Regions from separate parts of the Homo sapiens genome. Here region 1 is linked to region 2. The links come from fine-mapping of genetic effects on gene expression. A gene starts in region 2. The other region holds a variant in brackets. All regions are shown on one strand. Distances are between the middles of the regions. Region 1 overlaps MOB1B (MOB kinase activator 1B). Region 2 holds the start of MOB1B (MOB kinase activator 1B).

What was found. PIP is the estimated chance that this variant, and not a neighbour inherited with it, causes the effect. A credible set is the group of variants that fine-mapping cannot tell apart.
Region 1: its variant is the best candidate, but not a certain one, in a credible set for the expression of MOB1B in aorta (GTEx, PIP 0.51).

Annotation. Positions count from the first base shown.
Region 1 is chr4:70,925,413-70,930,617 of GRCh38, forward strand. All of the region lies in intron 1 of MOB1B (MOB kinase activator 1B), which reads left to right. Among named protein-coding and RNA genes, the nearest start is that of MOB1B, 26 kb to the left of the region's middle. The variant C/T (reference allele first, on the strand shown) is at 2,355.
Region 2 is chr4:70,899,700-70,904,904 of GRCh38, forward strand. MOB1B (MOB kinase activator 1B) reads left to right here and starts at 2,670. Exons shown (of 6, transcript NM_173468.4): 1 at 2,670-2,851. The coding sequence starts at 2,838. LOC124900711 (a long non-coding RNA gene) reads right to left here and starts at 2,532. Exons shown (of 2, transcript XR_007058132.1): 1 at 2,250-2,532; 2 at 1-18. RefSeq lists silencers at 2,490-2,639, 2,950-2,999.

The sequences.
Region 1 (5,205 bases), 26 kb after region 2:
GTGATGTCTTTGCCTTTTTTGATATCACTTAACATTAAGGAAGAAAAATACCACTGTCATTTTATGTAGCAGAAGAAAAACTGCTCTTGGTCCTCTGGTGACAGAAAGTACTCTCAGGATTGAGAGGATCAGTGTCTCTACATAACCATAATCCTTGAGAAGTTTGCTGTAGACTCTCAAAGTGTGGATCTTTGGCACCACCTAGGAGTATGTTTGAAATGCAGGATTTCGGGTCCTAATCATTGGATTATAATGCATTTTAATAAGATCCCTAGGTGATTTGAAAGCACCTTCCAAAGTGGATGCCTGTATATTTAATTTAAATGGTTTGAGATAAGGTGAATAAGAAAAATCCTTGGATTCAATATAACACCAGTTCTGTCTTTGAGAGATTCCCAATAAGGGAGCCTCAATGTAGATCCCCGTACTGTCCTTTCACACTTGCAATTATTTTCTTGTTTAATGTGTTTTTTTCTCCTTCTGGATTCTAAGTTTTCTCCTCCTGGACTGAGGGTTTGTTCATCATTTTATTTCCCAGCACATTAGGACATTGCTTAGCAAATATGTTTTCAATAATTTTCTTATTTGTGTGAGTGACAGGATCTCACTCTGTCACCGAAGCTGGAATGCAGTGGTATCTTCTCAGCTCACTGCAACCTCAACCTCCTGGGCTCGTGATTCTTCCACCTCAGCTTCCTGAGTAGCCGGGACTTTAGGTGTGTGCCACCATGCCTGGATAATTTTTGTATCTTTTGTAGAGACAGGGTTTTGCCATGTTGTCCAGGTGGTCTTGAACTCCTGGGCTCAAGCAGTCCGTCCACCTTGGCCTCCCAAGTGCTGGGATTACAGCCATTTTTTTTTTTTTTTTAATTAACTGAAGATTGTCATGGGAGAGAACAGTGGCCTATGAGTGAGGAAATCCGAGATTCAGAGTCTTTGGTCTGTCACTAGCTATGTGACCTTGGGCAGATGACTTAATTTCTTAGTTTCTATTTCCTCTGCCTACTGGAGGGTAACGAATGCTTCTTCCATTGGGTTAATGTGAGACTTGAATGACAGAATGTATATGAAAGCTTTTCATAAACCAGAGTCCTGTATAAACACTGTCATTATCTCCACTCATGAAATTCCCAAGCCCAGTGTATAAACTGTTTGTGCATTCCAGTTTTTTGTTTAGCTGTCTTACAAATGTATGGCATTATTGCATAATAAAATGAACATTTATTGAACACCTCCTGTGTGTAAAAGCGAAGTGTTAGGTGCTTGCTGGTGGTGGGAGGAGAAAGGAAGGGGTTTAGAAATAAACAAGATGTGCCGGGCGCAGTGGCTCACGCCTGTAATCCCAGCATTTTGGGAGGTGGATCATGAGGTCAGGAGATCGAGACCATCCTGGCTAACACGGTGAAACCCCGTCTCTACTAAAAATACAAAAAAATTAGCCGGGCGTGGTGGTGGGCGCCTGTAGTCCCATCTACTTGGGAGGCTGAGGCAGGAGAATGGCGCAAACTCAGGAGGTGGAGCTTACAGTGAGCCGAGATTGTGACACTGCACTCCGGCCTGGGCAACAGAGCAAGACTCCGTCTCAAAAAAGAAAAAAAAAAAAAGAAATAAGATGCGGTCTCTGTCCTCAAGAATCTTAGCACTGGAGACCAGCGTGTTACATAGATGTGCTCCTTAATGGTTGTTTTAAACTCTCAGTTCCAAGTCCACTGGCTAATGATGGTTAAAGACCCTTGCACTGCAAGATATTGCATTGAGTATACAAACTTTCTTGGGTGTATGTGTGAAATAATTGCAGTCTGTGTTCATCAAAAATTAGGAATATAAAGAAAAAAATTGCTGTCAGCCAGGCGCAGTGGCTCATGCCTGTAATCCCAGCACTTTGGGAGGCTAAGGTGGGCAGATCATCTGAGATCAGGAGTTCGAGACCAGCCTGGCCAACATGATGAAACCCCCGTCTCTACTAAAAATACAATAATTAGCCAGGCATGGTGGCACTCGCCTGTAATCCCAGCTACTTGGGAGGCTGAGGCAGGAGAATCGCTTGAACCTGGGAGGCGGAGGTTGCAGTGAGCTGAGATCATGCCACTGTACCCCAGCCTGGGCAACAGAGTGAGAATCTGTCTCAAAAAAAAAAAAATTGCCGTCAATACCACAGTTATAAATATGTGTAGTGCATTCACCTATTCAAAACAGCAAGAATTTTGCCGAATTGAGCTTCCGGTTTTTAGTCAGATGCTGTTTTTATTGTGTGGATGCGGGGGCCTCCCCTGCTTGTTCTTGGCATTGCTGCCACTGCTGTTCCACTTTAGCATCTTGGTTTTTAACATGGAGGGGAAGTGGTAGGAATCCTT[C/T]GGTGCACTCGCTTCCTGTAGTTCACTTGGGCATTTCAGGTAGATATTGGAATGGGCTGGAAGTGGTCTGCAAAACTCCAAGGCATAGAAGGCCTCCCTGAGATGTTTGCTTACCACTCCAGCCTCATCCGTGCCTTCCTGCTCTAACATCCCTCCCCCACAGTGTTCAGTGATTTTATTTGCATTTCTCTCAACCTGCTTTGCTCCATCTTTCTGCCTTTGTAAATGCCGTTCCTGTTATTCTGGCTGTTATTCTTCTCCTCCCCACCCCCATTTCTTTAGCTCAGGAGCCAACTTTTTCCCTGGCCTGTGCCCCCTTCCCAGTTTGTTAGATACCATTTCAGTGCCCTTTATAGTCCTTATCATAGTCCTTTCCAAAAAGACATTGTACTCCACCCACTGTCATGTGTATGATCTCTTTGAAGATGGGGCATTTTCAAAAAATGTTTGTTTTAAATCTCTACCACCTAGCATAGTGCCTCTTAGTAACAATTTTTTTTCCTGACTAATCAATGACATTTTCAAGAATTTTGTTTTTTTTTTTTTTGAGATGGAGTCTTGCTGTGTCACCTAGGCTGGAATGCAGTAGTGTGATCTCGGCCCACTGCACCCTCTGCCTCCCGGGTTCAAGCGATTCTCCTGCTTCAGCCTCTTGAGTAGCTGGGATTACAGGCGCGTGCCACCATGCCCGGCTAATTTTTTGTATTTTTAGTAGAGATGGAGTTTCACCATGTTGTTCAGGCTGGTCTCGAACTCTTGACCTCGTGATCCACCGCCTCAGCCTCCCAAAGTGCTGGAATTACAGGTATGAGCCACCACACGTGGCCTGACATTTTCAAGAATTTCATCACGGGTGGTGAGAGTATGAGTGATTCTCCTCAGTCTGTTGTATGTTTTTCCATTGTAAAGATTTTAGGGAAAATATTAAAAGGTGGCTACTGTGCACAGAAGAGTTTAGAATACCTATTTATTGGATTTTTATAATAAAAAAACTTTTTTTTAATAGACACGGGGTCTTGCTATGTTACCTAGGCTTGTCTTGAACTCCTAGGTTCAAGTGATCCTCCCACCTTGGCCTCCCAAAATGCCGATATTACTGGCGTGAGCCCCTGCACTCAGCCTTATTTATTGTATCTTTATCACATAGTTTTGTAGAGACCTTCTTTACAGGATTGTCATATACCAGGCACAAGTTTCCTATTTTCCAATGTGCCCTGTAAATTGTGTTCCCTCTACCAGGGAATGAGAGTGCTCATTTCCCTGCATTCCCACTATCATTGCATCATTAAGAAAAAGAGTCATGAAAGCTTCTTGGACTTTTAAAATTAATGCCAAATAAACAAGATAATAGTAAAGGTACTTCCAAATAATTTCTGTCCCCTGTATTTCTTTTCTTCTTTTTCTTTTCTTTCTTTCTTTTTTTTTTTTTTTTTTGAGACAATCTTGCTGTCACCCAGGCTGGAGTGCAGTGGCGTGATCTTGGCCCACTGCAAGCTCCACCTCCCAGGTTCAAGTGTTTCTCCTGCATTAGCCTCCCAAGTAACTGGGATTACAAGTGTGTGCCACCACGCCCGGCTAATTTTTGTGTTCTTAGTAGACAAGGGATTTTCCCATGTTGGCCAGGCTGATCTCCAACTCCTGACCTCAAGTGATCTGCCCACCTTGGCCTCCCGAAGGATTACAGGTGTGAGCCACTGCATCTGGCCAATTTAATTTTATTATTTTATTTTTGGAGATAAGGTCTTGCTCTGTGGCTGAGTCTGTAGCACAGTGGCCCAACAACTGCTTATTGTGGCCTCCACCTCCTGGGCTCAGATGATCCTCTTACCTCAGCCTCCTGAGTAGCTGGGACCACAGGTACACGTCACCACACCAAGCTAATTTTTTTTTTTTTTTTGAGATGGAGTCTCACTCTGTCGCCCAGGCTGGAGTGCAGTGGCGCGATCTTGGCTCACTGCAAGCTCCGCCTCCTGGGTTTACGCCATTCTCCTGCCTCAGCCTCCCGAGTAGCTGGGACTACAGGCACCCGCCACTGCGCCCAGCTAATTTTTTGTATTTTTAGTAGAGACGGGGTTTCGCCGTGGTCTCGATCTCCTGACCTTGTGATCCGCCCGCCTCGGCCTCCCTTAATACAGCCACTGCGCCCAGCCTTAATTTTTAAAATTTTTTGTAGAGACAGCGTCTCCCTATGTTGCCCAGGGTGGTCTTGAAGTCCTGGGCTTGAGCAATTCACCCGTCTCAGCCTCCCAAAGTGTTGGAATTACAGGCATGAGCCACCGTGCCTGGCCAGAATGAAGTTTTAAAATTTAAAATTTAGATTTAAAATGAAGTTTTAACAATTTACTAGAAAAATAATGCTTTTTTCGAAATTAGCATATAGTATAGTCTATAAGGGTGGATTTCACAAACTGAGATATTTAACTCAGTGTATATCTTGTTTCTTAGTTTTTTTTTGATATTTTACTACAGGCAATAAACTGATAATTTAGTGTACATAAACATGTTTGGGAGGCAGATGGCATATGTGGAGCTCTAAAAATAACTAAATTCTGGGGGTAGATTTAAAGTTACTTTTCACTTACTTCTCTTAATTCTTTTATTGCTTTTCTCATGGAGTCTGTTAGAAAGCTATGCCAGGGTTTTTAGTTTCTGATTATTTCAGGATGAAGAGTTTTTTTCTTTTAGTAACTCTTTCCCCAAAGTATGAGTAAACAGTCGTGTCCAATTGCTAGTGCATGTGAAGAATATGCTTTTATGGCATGCTTGTTATTTTTGAGTATTTACAAGTTGAACTATTAAGAGTAATTTATATGTTACAACAACTCAGAACACTCTACCTTTTTTTATTAGT
Region 2 (5,205 bases):
TCGCTACGGTAAATAGTGCTGCAATAAACAAACATGTGCATGTGTCTTTATTCAAATGAATATTTAAAGAGCATATGCCCACTCATGTTCTGTTCTATTCTGTACATGTTACAGTATAATTTCAATTCTTTGAAAAGTTGGATAGAACAAAAATTTTAATAATCTTGCTTCATAAACAAAAGGTTATTAGATTTTGGTCAGAAGAGATGATAATTATAAATATCTATTTGAATATAAACTCTCTTTGATTCTGAAATTCCCAATGTTTTTGATATGCTGAATAATTTTATATGACAGACATCATTTGATTTAAAGTCTAACCTGGAATCATATTGTATATTATTAACCTGACACCTCCCTCACATTTAGGACCAGTATATTTACGTTTTATTGGATGTTAATTCCAGGCAACTCTCCTAGTGGTATGATAAAGAAATACTCAGAAGGTATTTTTGCAGATTCTTTCCTCTGCCAGTTTTCCCTTATTCAGTGTCACAGGATACATCTAAATTATGTCAGACCAAAACTAAGGCTACCTAAGCCAAATCAGGGAGCAGTTTGGAAATGTGTGCCAGTCATTTGAAGGATGCCCCTGGCAGGAGAGAACTTTAGAACTGGAAGATATTTTAGAGATCATGTAATGATAGAAGGCTCCCATTTTAAATGGGCTAAAACTGAGGCTATGACAGGTCAACTCACTCTTTCCAAAGATAATCAGTAATCTGGTAATGCAAGTCTTACTTTCAGAAGACCCTTACAAGAATCATACAGGGCTGGGCGTGGTGGCTCACGCCTGTAATTCCAGCATATTGGGAGGCCAAGGCAGGCAGATCACGAGGTCAGGAGTTTGAGACCAGCCTGGCCAACATAGTAAAACCCCGTCTCTACTAAAAATTCAAAAATTAGCCAGGTGTGGTGGCACAGGCCTGTAATCCCAGCTACTTAGGAGGCTGAGGCAGAATTGTTTGAACCCAGGAGGCAGAAGTTGCAGTGAGCCTAGTCCAGAAGTTGCACCACTGGACTCCAGCCTGGGTGACAGAGTGAGACTCCGTCTCAAAAAAAAAAAAAAAAAAAAGAATTATACAGTAAGTCAGTACCATATCAATATTTGGAGCACAGGGTTTTATACCATAAATCTATTATTTTCATTCAGATAAATCCTCCTCTTTCTTCTTTTTGGGGAATCTTTTAAAAAATTTTTAATTTAATTTGAAGTTCCAGGATACATGTGCAGGACGTGCAGGTTTGTTACATAGGTAAACGTGTGTGCCATGGTGGTGTGCTGAACCTATCAACTTATCACCTAGGTATTAAGCTCTGCATGCATTAGCTATTTATCCTGATCTGGTAATCTTTTGAGTCTGTAAGTTTTCTCATTCCAGTAACCTCTGCTGTTCCTGAGATAGTGCAAGATTCTAGTATTTTCTTCTATTAAAAAATTTTTTTTTTGAGACGGAGTCTAACTCTGTCACCCAGGCTGGAGTGTAGTGGCATGATCTTGGCTCACTGCAACCTCTGCTTCCTGGGTTGGAGCAATTCTCCTGCCTCAGCCTCCCGAGTAGCTGGGATTACAAGTGTGTGCCACCATGCCCGGCTAATTTTTGTATTTTTAGTAGAGACGGGGTTTGGCCATGGTCTTGAACTTTGGCTGGTCTTGAACTCCTGACCTCAGGTGATCCACCCACCTCGGCCTCCCAGAGTGCTGGGATTACAGGCATGAGCCACTGCGCCCGGCCTAAAACGTTTTTTTTTTTTTTTTTTTTTTTTTTTTTTTTTTTTTTTACCACTTTACCAACGTGCCAAATAATAGTGCATATATGCAGTATAATACATTTCATATCTGCACCTACTTCAAAGTGTATTCTGCCCTTTGGGATAAGCCAAAGGTGAGCTAATATCTGCACATGATTTGTTTTGCTCAGATTCTCTTTGAAAACTTGTAGATTTGATGGGTGTTGTGAGTAAAGAAGACGGACATCTCTTCGATACCCGTATTTCCCTCCTAAATTGGTAATGCTGTGGTGACATATTCAAGGTATGTGAAGGATTCTTAAACAGAATATAAAGGCTTGCCCTGGGCCCCATAACCCTGTGAGAATAAAAGTCCCTTTGTAAGTGGGTCTGAATAGCTTCTAGCTTCTAGGATGTTCTGTGCATTAGAATGCTTACAAGCTTTGGCCCCCTAAGTGGTTACACCGATGACCACCCTATCATGCTGGGTTCCGTGGTGAACTGAGAGATGCCATTACCTTTCACCGCCCTTGGCCGGACACTCACGGTGGGCCTAACTCCGGTGGTAATTCCATCCCTCACTGCGGGACCTTGACATCCCCGAGCTGAAGCCCACTTCCTCCCTGACCTCTGGAGCCCAGCTGAGCGGCTCCGAGAGCTCTGCCATGACTCCTAACCGGGTGGACAGGGGGGCCGGGCAGCCGCGGCGCACACGCTGGGCGTCGTCCCTAGCAGCAGAGGAGACCAGAAGGTGAGAGTCCCCATGCCGCAGCCGGAGGGCCGGGGTGGGCTTGCACCGCTATCGCGAGAGCTCGTGAGGTGGGGGCGGCGGGGAGCTGGGGAGGGGCTCGCGGAGAGCCTGCCCCGCCTCCCTTTCCTTCCCCTCCCCTGGAGTGATTCAAGACGAGCGCTACCCACTTCCGCCCCCTCCCCCTGCCATTGGAACTAGCTGAGCCGAACTAGTTGCGGCCACCGAGCAGCCGGCTCTCGGCACCTCCTCCTCCGCCTCCCTGTCTCCTGTTCCATTCGCCTTTCCTCTTCTTTCCTGGCCCACGCCGCTCCGAGGCCTCGCGACCGCCGAGCCTGCAGCCTGCCCCGCGGCCAACATGAGCTTCTTGTTGTGAGTAGCCAGGCCCCGCACGCGCCGGCTTTGTTCGGGTGGACCTGGGCCCCCGCCCGCCGCCCGCCGCCCGTCGCCCGCCCTCGTCCCGACCCTCCTGGCCCAGCGCTCCCGGGGCCCGGCGTCACCACCAAGCGGGGCCCCGGGACTGCGCGGAGCGCTCGGACTACCTAACCGCCGCCTCCCCATAGGGCTTCGAGTACTCGTGGGCTCCTGCAGCCCTGAGGAGGTTCTTCCCCCCCGGCACACCCCGGGGCCAGCGCCTGGATTCCTTCATCACCCCCGTCTCTGCCTTCGCTCGCATTCCCGGGCTTGTTTGTGCGCTTCTCGTGGGTATCTCCCACTCGCCTGCACAATCCGTATCCAAGCGGTGCTCGGTTGAATGGCTCCGTCGCGGCTGCCCATTGCTCTTTTCTGGGTCCCAAGCACAGAAGATAAGACTGTCGTACTTTCCCCTGTCATCCCAGGACCCTTTTAACTTCCTCTCTCGTCTTAGGGCTGGGAAGTTGGGATGACAAGTTCTGTAGATGTAACACTGAAACAAGGCTACTTGCGGGTCGGGATCCCTTGGACACAGACGGGGGTCCCTGAGAAAGGGGTCTGGAGCCGCCCCCTTGCTTCCTAGAGGCGCCCTTCCTCCCAGAGGACTTCCCTGAAGAGGATGAGTTTTATCTTTTTAGACAACCAGCAAATAGGTTTTGGATAGTGTGCCCTGCCTAGGTTGATTAGGTCCACTGGGGAGTTGTTTTGAAAATCATTTGTAAATGCCAACTTTGGCGTCATGTTTAGTGCTGGTCATTATTTCACTTACTTATCGTTTGTTCCAGACGAGTGGAGGGGAACGTGGAGGGGGAAGGGCAGAAGGATGGGATGGCCAGATGTGGATATGGAGGCAGTAGATAAGCCTCAGGTCCTCTGAAAACAGGGGTTACAGCCTGAGGAATAACTCCTTTGAAGGCTTCGTTGTGATGCACTCATTCCATGTTTAGTCTGTGTTTAGAAAACTAATAAAAAACTTAGAAGTTGAAACTCACCCATATACTGTTTTACTGTTGTGGAGAAATTAGCATTTAAAGGATATTTTCTTAAGATTTCTCTTCTTTCCTTGCCTAATAATTTTTAGTCATTACATTGACGTCTGAATACTGAGAATTTAATTCACTCTTATTTTCACATGCTCACATCTAGAATTTTTTTTTTTAGGGTGTTTAAGCAAAACTGAACAAGGCTGACCTAGGGGCAGACTTGATATTTCCAATATGCATAGGGGACCTGGCTTGTGTCAACTTGCCTAAAACCTTTAAACGGAAAGGGATTTCTTAGGCTCCTCCTAGAAGTTGATTCTGAGTTTGTCGGATTGGCATAGGGCTAGATGACAGGACTGGGTGATTTTATAAAAAAGTCCTTGTTTCTTATTTTAGTTCTTTTTTTTTTTTTTTTTTTTTTTTGAGACGGAGTCTCCGCTCTGTCACCAGGCTGGAGTGTGTAGTGGCGTGATCTCGGCTCACTGCAACCTCTGCCTCCCGGGTTCAAGCGATTCTCCTGCCTCAGCCTCCTGAGTAGCTGGGACTACAGGCCCGCGCCACCACGCCTGGCTAATTTTTGTATTTTTAATAGAGATGGGGGTTTCACCATGTTGGCCAGGCTGGTCTCGAACTCCTGATTTCAAGTGATCTGCCTGCCTTGATCTCCCAAAGTGCTGGGATTACAGACGTGAGCCCACCGTGCCTGGGCAGTTTCTTGTTTTAGTTCTAATCACCATATTCAGGTATCTCAACTTGAAGCTTCTCATCTTGAGCTTAATTTTACATTGCTAATGTTTGATTGTTTTCAAGAATTTAGAAGCTGTATTCAAAATAGCACTGTAGATGATATCCATGACTACTGCTGATGGGCTTGTGTCTAGTAAGCTAAATTGGTTAAAGCAAGGCCAGTCGCGGTGGCTCATGCCTGTAATCCCAGCACTTTGGGAGGCCAAGACAGGCAGATCACCAGGTCAGGAGTTCGAGATCAGCCTGGCCAATATGGTGAAACCCCGTCTCTACTAAAAATACAAAAATTAGCTGGGCAAGGTGGCACGCACCTGTAGTCCCAGCTACTTGGGAGGCTGAGACGGGAGTATCACTTGAACCCGGGAGGTAGAGGTTGAAGTGAGACGAGATCGCGCCACTGCACTCCAGCCTGGGTGGCAGAGTGAGACTCTGTCTCAAAAAAAAAAAAAAAAAAGGTTAAAGCAGGGAAGAGCCATATTTGGCTGAAACTAGGGGATGGAGAAGTTTCTGATGCTATTTTTTGAATACAAATACAGTAGAATCCTATTTTTACATGGCTCAGTATTTAATAGATTCAGATTT